Linked DNA regions of Homo sapiens: all the other regions are linked to region 2. Evidence: fine-mapped expression QTL. A gene starts in region 2. Each other region holds a variant in brackets. All regions are shown on one strand. Distances are from middle to middle.

Region 1 (2,663 bases), 110 kb after region 2:
TCAAGTGATCCTCCTGCCTTGGCCTCCCAAAGTGCTTACAGGCATGAGCCAGTGCACCTGGCCAATTTCATATCTTTTAAGGAAGCTAAGGGAAGAAAGAGCAAGTATATGTTTATAGATTTTGCTTGAGTAATCTTCTTAGTTGCCTTTTCACATTATCTTCATTTGTTCCATGGATCTGAATTATCATCTGGTGTCCTTTCCTTAATAGACAATTCTGCTCCCTCCCACCTCCTTTGTGCTATTATGAAATATTGTGTGTTATAGCCCTAACAAAATAATTATATACATGTTATTTTATACAGTTGCTTTTAAATCAGTTAAGAGAAGCAATATACAGTTACACTGCCCTTTTTTTCCTTTACTTTTTTGAGACGGAATCTCTTTTGCTGATTGCGAGATAGTTTCTCTGTCTTTGGCTTTCAACATTTTCATTATCATGTGTCTGGGAGTGAATGTCTTTGTGTTTTATCCCACCCAGAATTCACTGAGCCTCTTAGGTATGTAGATTAGTGTTTTCCATTACATTTGAGATGTTTTCAGCCATTATTTTTCAGAGACATTTTTCTGCCCCTTTCTCTTGCTCCTGCCCTTCTGCTACTCCTGTTTTCCCTATTTGGTGCCTTATGGTGTCCCACATTTCTCTGAGGCTCTGTTTATCTTTCTCATGTTTTTCCTGTCTTATATTTGGATTTCGTAATCTCTGTAAATCTACCTTCATGTTGACTAAATGTATTTTCTGCCAGTTCCAATATACTCTGGAGCCCCTCCAGTGAATTCTTCATATCGGTTGTACTTTCCAACTCCAGGATTTCCTTTTGGTTCTTTTTCATAATTTCTCTCTTGTTTATCTTGAGGACTCTCTATTTGATGAGCCATTGTCATCATACTTTTCTTTATCTCTTTAAGTACAGTCATAGGCAGTTTTTATCACTTGCCTTTTTTCCTGCTTTTCCACACACTGAAGATACCAGTTAGAATTTTTTTAGTTTTCCTGTTCCTGGGATTGCTTCTATGTGATCTAGAATCAGTCATTTACCTGTTCATCCTGGTTTTTCCTCAGGCTTGGGGATCCTGGATTGTTCCTGTGGATGGATGAAGCATTTCGTTGTTTGATGTAGGGGCTAGGGATGGCTCATCTCCAGTTCTCAATGCGTTTCCCCAGGAGGTGTCTCCCAGGAAAGGAAGGCCCACGGTGGGCTCTGCATAAGGTGGTGGCAGCAGAGCCCGGCAAGCCGGGTGGACCCCCCCAACTTTTCTCGTGACTTCCCTGGACGGAGCTGCCTTTGCTTTGCTCCTCTGAGTTCCCTAGCAGATGCCTCAAGCTCCTCCCCCTTTTCTAGATCCTT[C/T]CCCCATCCTGGGAGCCCACCTTGTGCCCGCCCTCTCTGGGCGTGTGGTGCTGTCTCAGTCTGAGGTCAGCACCTCTGCCGCTGACTTGGTGTACGGGAGCAGGGCGTGTTCGGACATTGGGAAGCTGACCTCTGCCGGCCTCGGTAGCTGGCCCGTGCCCTGCGCTTCCCGCTGTCCACCCTGAACTTGGGTGGCCACTGGATACTTTCAGATTGGCCTTTAAGTGTTCTTTTCCCTGTTAATCTAATGCCATCATCTTGCTACATTTTAGGGACTCCTCAAAATTCCTAGTCCACATACCCCCTCCCACCCCCTTTTATTTGAGACAGTGTGTTACTGTGTCACCCAGGCTGGAGTGCAGTGGTGTGATCTCCCTATGTTGCCCAGGCTGGTCTTGAACCCCTGGGCTCAAGCAGTCCACCCACCTCGGCCTTCCAAAGTGAGCCACTGCGCCTGGCCAGATACCCTTTGTTGGTGTTGTTTTGATTTGATTCTTAGTCGGAGAAGTAGCTGTTTTCTCTTTCATTTCAGTAGGATCCTGAGTGGGCAGTGGATACATTTGTTTTTCACCATTTTAAACTCAAAGCACTAAAGCTAAACAATGTAGTCCCCTCTGCTCATTTTCCATCTGCAGTAGTGAGACTCTCAGTGCCCGGGGCAGTCAGCGCCTGGCGCGTAGGAGCGGCTTCATCAGCACTGGCTCGGTGCCAAATGCATGGCAGTGAAGTGCTGTGCACTAGGACCCTCCCCAAAAGCAAGAGCCTGCATCCCTGTTGCCTCTTCCTCTTCCGTCTCCGTAGAAGCAGAAAGGCACACAGCTTCCACGACACAGATTCACTGACTGCAGCCGCGTTAAAGACACGTTCACACTGAAGCACCTGACAGTGACTCTGGGCCAGTGATGATGGGCGGCTTATATTCTTCTTTATAGTCTTCTGAACTTGGACAACAATTTACTTTTATAGTTGTAGAAAACTGTTAAGCTCTGTTGGAACGCAGTTTTGAGAGGAATCAATTTGTGCAGCTCAGTTCGGTACTCATGTTTGTTTCCCAGCGGTCACCTTTGTCCCGGTGTCCAAGGTGAGCGGGCAGGCAGAGGTGGACGACATCCTCGCGGCAGTCCGCCCGACCACACGCCTCGTGACCATCATGCTGGCCAACAATGAGACTGGCATTGTCATGGTGAGTCGGCCTTTGTTTCTCTTTAAGGAGAGCTCATGGGGAAGAACAGCAGCTTAGACTCATGGCGTTTCAGGTTTCCCAGCTCTGGCCTCTCCCGTTTCTCTGTTCACTTTGATAACATTTGGCCTGCG
Region 2 (2,663 bases):
CCAGACTGGAGTGCAGTGTCAGCTCACTGCAACCTCCGCCTCCTGGGTTCAAGCAATTCTCCTGCCTCAGCGTTCCAAATAGCTGGGATTACAAGGGCGCACCACCACGCCCGGCTTTTTTGTATTTTTAGTAGAGATGGGGTTTTGCCATGTTGGCCAGGCTGGTCTTGAACTCCTGACCTCAGGTGATCTGTCTGCCTCGGCCTCCCAAAGTGCTGGGATTACAGGCCTGAGCCACTGCGCCCGGCTGAGTTGTGTTCTTGACCAGTTTTCCTGACTCCATTCCCACCGACTCACTTAGAGCCAAAGCCTTTATTATTATTATGGGGACAGGGTCTGCCCTGTCACCCAAGCTGGAGTGCAGTGGTGCGATCACGGCTCACTGCAGCCTCAACCTCCTGGGCTCAGGTGATCCTCCCATCCCAGCCTCCTGAGTAGCTGGGACTACAGGCGCGCGCCACCACGCGGCTAATTTTTTTTTTCTTTTTTTGTAGCGATGGGGTCTTGCCACCATCAGGAGGCTGGTCTTAAACTCTTGGGCTCATGGGATCCTCCCACTTTGGCCTCCCAAAGTGCTAGGATTACAGGCGTGAGCCACCGGGCCCGCCAGCCTCCTTTAGGAAGAAAACCTGATAGTCACTCCACTGTTAGAAACCTCTCAGTGGGGTTTTTCGAAATGAAAGTCTAACTCCTTGTCTCTTTCTGACCGTTTCCATGCTGAACCTCATCTTTCTAATGGCCCACTCCTCCAGGGGCCTGCCTGACGCCCAGGACGGCCCCTCGTCAATCACACAGGACGCTAATGGGCGCGGGATGAATCTGGGCGCCCAAAAGAGGACAAGTTGAAATGGATTTTTAAGGTACTTTAAACACATTTAAGAGAGAAAAGAAGGAATAAAAGGGACATGACAAGAACAGTGGGGCCTGTGGGCGCAGCACACGGTTTGGGGTTGGTCGTGGCTTGCGTGTCTGACCGCCCGGTCTCCCTCACCGCCTGCACTGCAGGCTGCGGGGGCCTGTCCAGTCCTTTGCACTCCAGGTGCGGCGCTGGACAGCGGGAGCTCCAGCCACGGAGGCCGCTCCTTCAGGGAAGGATAGCCCGGGCTCCTCCGTGCCCCTAAACCCTGCAGACCACGAAGTGAACCCGTGTTGGAACCAGGTGCAAAACCCCCAGCCCTCCGGCGCTCGGGCTCCAGAGCCAACTCGGAATCCCCGCCCCTAACGCTACTCGCCAATCAGCGGCGGTTGCGAAATCCGTGCCCGCCCCCTGGCCGCGCCCTCTGCCAATGAGCGAGGTCCGAGAGGCCCGTCGCCCAGCCCAGTCCCGATCGGCGCACGCCGCTGTTCGCGTGTCTGGTTCCAAATAAAGTTTTTCGCGACTTTGAATTTTTTTTTTAAAGCGCCCGCTGCTGTCTCGGCTGCCGCGGGCGAGAGCGGCCGAGTCCCCGCCCCGCCACTTCCGGTCCCGCCGCCGGGAGCCGGTGCGGCTGTGAGGGGCCGCGTCTCGCAGCAGCCGCCCGGACCGGGCATGGTGTTGGGCGCCGGGCCCGCCTCGCCTGTCTCGGGGAGCCCAGGTGAGGAGCGACCGTGCGGCTCTGCGGCGGGGCGAGGTGCGGCCGCCGGTGCACGGGCTGGCCTGCGGGCCGGGCGGAGGGCGCGGGCGGTGGCGGGGCCGCCTCGGGCCCGCCGGGTTCCTCACGCCGGGGGCCTGGCGGGCGCGGGCACCCGGACGCGAGGCCGAGCGGCGTGAATGGGAAGGGGCCGCGGGCCGCGGGCCGCGAGCCGGGGGTCGGAGGCGGCGTCGGCGGCCGGGGCGCTGGCCTCGCCCGGCAGTGAGTGACCGCGGCGGCGGCGGCGGGGGACGGCCCGCGCCGAGCACCTGGTGTGAACCAGGCCCTGGGCCGAGCGTGGCACAGACCTGGCCGCGCTCACGCCCCACTCGCGGGATCGGCTGCCTGCCTTGTACGGAGGAAGCGGGGCGTCCAGCGCCTGGCCAAGGTCACCGGCCCGACGTGGCCGCAGAAACCGGGACTGGACTCCCGATCGGGGCAGGAGTCGCGCTAGGCCGTGAGGAGCGGGGGAGGTGAGGGGAGTGACAACTCGCGCCCGGTCCTCGTACCTGCAGCGGGAAGAGTAAGTATGGACGCTTACCTACAACTGGGGGCGGCCAGGCTAGTTTGGAAAATTTTTACCACAGCAAAGGAGACGAGGAAGGAAGGGCATCTTGGAACAATTAGTGCAGCAGAGTCTTGGTTCCAGACCTAGTTCTGCTGGTGTGTCATCTTGGGTGTGGCCTTCCCCTCCCTGGGCTCAGTTTCCTCATCTGTCACAGGAGAGAATTGGGTCCCCCCACTCTGCATTCCCGACCGCCTGGAAGTGGGGGCAGGATGGGTTGGAATAGCCAGAGAAAGCTTCTTGGAGGAGGAGATGTTGGGATGTAGGTAGGAATCTTCCCCTTAAGGAAGGGGTAGGATTCGTTTGTGAAGGGAAGGAGGGCATTCTAGACCTGGGTATCAGACTGAATAGAAGCTTCTGGAAATGAACAGGGTGTTGTGAAGGAACAAAGAGGAAACTGGCCTGCCTGGTGCAGAGGAATCCTGGCTGAGGAGTGAGATGAAGGCAAGGGGGAGCATAGAGGTGGGAGAGAGAGAGAGATTGAGAGA
Region 3 (2,643 bases), 25 kb before region 2:
TCTGTGCGGCATGTCATTGTACTGAAGAGTGTAGGCCATTGGGACACAGTGGTATTCATGCATGTAAACATATCTTAACATAGAAAAGTTCAGTTAAAAACATGGTATTTGCTTCATAGCAGTCCAGTCCATGCAAACCTACCCCCAAAGTCCAAGGAAGCTGAGGGCTAAAGAAGAGGCTGACAAATCCAGCTCCTCAGAAAGAAGCATTTAATAAAGACTTATGAAGAGAAGCCATGTCTCAGGTAGCCAAAAGTTGGTGGACCCCCACACCATTCCTACCATAGGGGAAGGAACAGGTAGGACAAGTGAAGCTGATCCCTAGGGAAGGGCAAGAATGCTATGTGAATCTGCCTAAGGGCAGGATTTATGGCCAAGGTCATTTTGACCCAAGGCCAGGGTTTATGGTAATAGTAGATAAAATAGAAATCTTAGAGGCCTCCCTGAACAGGGGTTAATGAGAAGTCACCATAGTGGATTAGAGTCCAAGATGGAATTGCTTTAGCCTCCACAGTCTTATAATCTTATGAGACCACCATCAAATATATCATCCATCATTGACCCAAACATTGTCATGTGGTTCATGACTCTATTTTTTTACCCTGCTAGCTGAAAGGGCCTTTAAAAACCAATACCCTGAGCTGGGAATGGTGCATGAGTCTGTAATCCTAGCTACCTGAGAGGCTGAAGTCAGAGGATCACTTGAGTCCAGGAATTCAAGACCAGCCTGGGCAACATAAAAAGACCCCCATCTCAAACACACACACACACACACACACACACATATGCACACACACACATGCACACACACGTGCACACACACACATGCACACACACACACACACAAACACCTTAGTAGCAATAAGCACACTGAGCACTCAAATACTTGTTTTGAACACCATTTCCAATTAAAGGAAGAATTTCAATTATTGTTTTTCTCAACTGTTATCTATTGCCTCGGGCAGCAACAACTAAAGCCTTTGGCTATAAGTGTTTTCCACAAACACTCCCTGCGTAAGTCTTCAACACTGGGAAAGTTCTGGGTCAAAAAAAAATAAAGTGTTTTGAGCTGGTCTTCCAGGGAAGACAGGTCAAATAATGACAGTTCTTTGAGAATGAGGTCTGTTCTGCTCTCTCTGGTGCTGGGGATGTGTGCTGTTACCTGTATGGAAATAAGGAGAGAA[G/A]CAAAGGCTATTTATCTACTCAGAGCTTGCTATGACAAGGGAGGAAGCCACTCTCCTGTGTTTCAGCAGACACTCAAAAGCAGGCAGGGGAGTGGGGAAGCTTCGTGCTGGAGAAAAGGGAAGGCTCAGGTGTGTGCAGATTGGAGGCTGTTGACCTAGGGAAGCTGGAGGGCTCGCTAGAAATGGGGCTTCTATATGATTGCTTAGGGGAGCAAATTGACTTTCTCTGGTTGGTCCTCAGCTGGAAGCAGGGACAAAAATTAGGAAAGTGTCTAGTTATTAACCAGTCAACTGGCTGCGTGGGGCCAATTGTCACAGAAGTAATTGTTTTTACTTTGTGGATTGTTTCTAGAGAGAGCAATTGGACCTCCAACAAGTCTGACTTGTAGCATGCTGGCTTCCTGAGTTGTTATGTGCAGATAAGGGTTTGGCTTCCTTCCTGGGCTTGTTGTTACCGGTTGTGGGTGAGAGTTCTGTTTGTGTATATGGCCTGGCCATTGTCTGTATATTTGGTCTCTCTCTTTTTTTTTGAGATGGAGTCTCACTCTGTCACCCAGGCTGGAGTGCGGTGGCGTGATAGCTCACTGCAACCTCCACCTCCCAGGTTCAAGCAATTCTTGTGCCTCAGCCTCCTGATTAGCTGGGATTACAGGCACACGCCATCAGGCTAACTTTTGTATTTTTAGTAGAGACGGGATTTCACCACGTTGGCCAGGATGGTCTCAAACTCCTGACCTCAGATGATCCACCCATGTCGAACTTCCAAAGTGCTGGGATTACAGGCGTGAGCCACTGCACCTAAACTGGCCTCTCATTTTCAAGTTTCCTGCTTTGCTGGGGAGCCAGGGAGGGGAATAGAGTAAGTTAACTGCCACAAAGCCTGCTGCTCTTACAGAGACTCCAGCCCTTCCTTCAGCTCTTCCTCTTATCAAGTGCTTCCTGACTTCTTACAAGTCTTTGTTTAATTTCCAGAGTTCCAAGAAATTAACTCCAGCAGTTTGGGCCAATGTTTTGTTGCTTCTTAGAATGCACAATAATTTCAGGGTTCCTTATTGTATTTTCACTAACATCACTTGCCATATTAATTTTTTTCCTTTTATTATATTAGAAACGGGGGTGTCTCACTATATTGCCCAGGCTGGTCTCGAACGCCTGAGCTCAAGTGATCCTCCTGCCTCGGCCTCCCAAAGTGCTGGCATTGTAGGCATGAGCCACCACACCTGGCTATAAGTAGATTGTTCTTCAGAGGTTATTTTCAGCTGACTTTTGGTTTCCTATCTAATTTTGTAATGGTGGGTAATGAAGCCCCTCTGAACCAAGAAGTTTGTATGCAGCTCATTCTTGTCTTCTGTGATTTTCTTTTCTCTCTCTCTCTGTCTTTCTTAAGTATAATTAGAGAGTTTATTTGGGCCAAATTTGAGGACTGCAACCCAGGAGACATATAGTCAAGTTACCCTGA

The links. PIP is the estimated chance that this variant, and not a neighbour inherited with it, causes the effect.
Region 1: its variant is the best candidate, but not a certain one, in a credible set for the expression of UBE2F in thyroid (GTEx, PIP 0.82).
Region 3: its variant is the best candidate, but not a certain one, in a credible set for the expression of UBE2F in left ventricle (GTEx, PIP 0.50).

What each region holds. Positions count from the first base shown.
Region 1 is chr2:238,079,305-238,081,967 of GRCh38, forward strand. It overlaps SCLY (selenocysteine lyase), which reads left to right. Exons shown (of 12, transcript NM_016510.7): 5 at 2,405-2,532. UBE2F-SCLY (UBE2F-SCLY readthrough (NMD candidate)) reads left to right here. Exons shown (of 19, transcript NR_037904.1): 12 at 2,405-2,532. Among named protein-coding and RNA genes, the nearest start is that of SCLY, 20 kb to the left of the region's middle. The variant C/T (reference allele first, on the strand shown) is at 1,350.
Region 2 is chr2:237,965,559-237,968,221 of GRCh38, forward strand. It overlaps UBE2F (ubiquitin conjugating enzyme E2 F (putative)), which reads left to right and starts at 1,456. Exons shown (of 10, transcript NM_080678.3): 1 at 1,456-1,574. UBE2F-SCLY (UBE2F-SCLY readthrough (NMD candidate)) reads left to right here and starts at 1,387. Exons shown (of 19, transcript NR_037904.1): 1 at 1,387-1,574. RefSeq lists a silencer at 1,500-1,679.
Region 3 is chr2:237,940,633-237,943,275 of GRCh38, forward strand. No RefSeq gene overlaps it. Among named protein-coding and RNA genes, the nearest start is that of UBE2F-SCLY, 25 kb to the right of the region's middle. RefSeq lists an enhancer at 747-1,246. The variant G/A (reference allele first, on the strand shown) is at 1,185.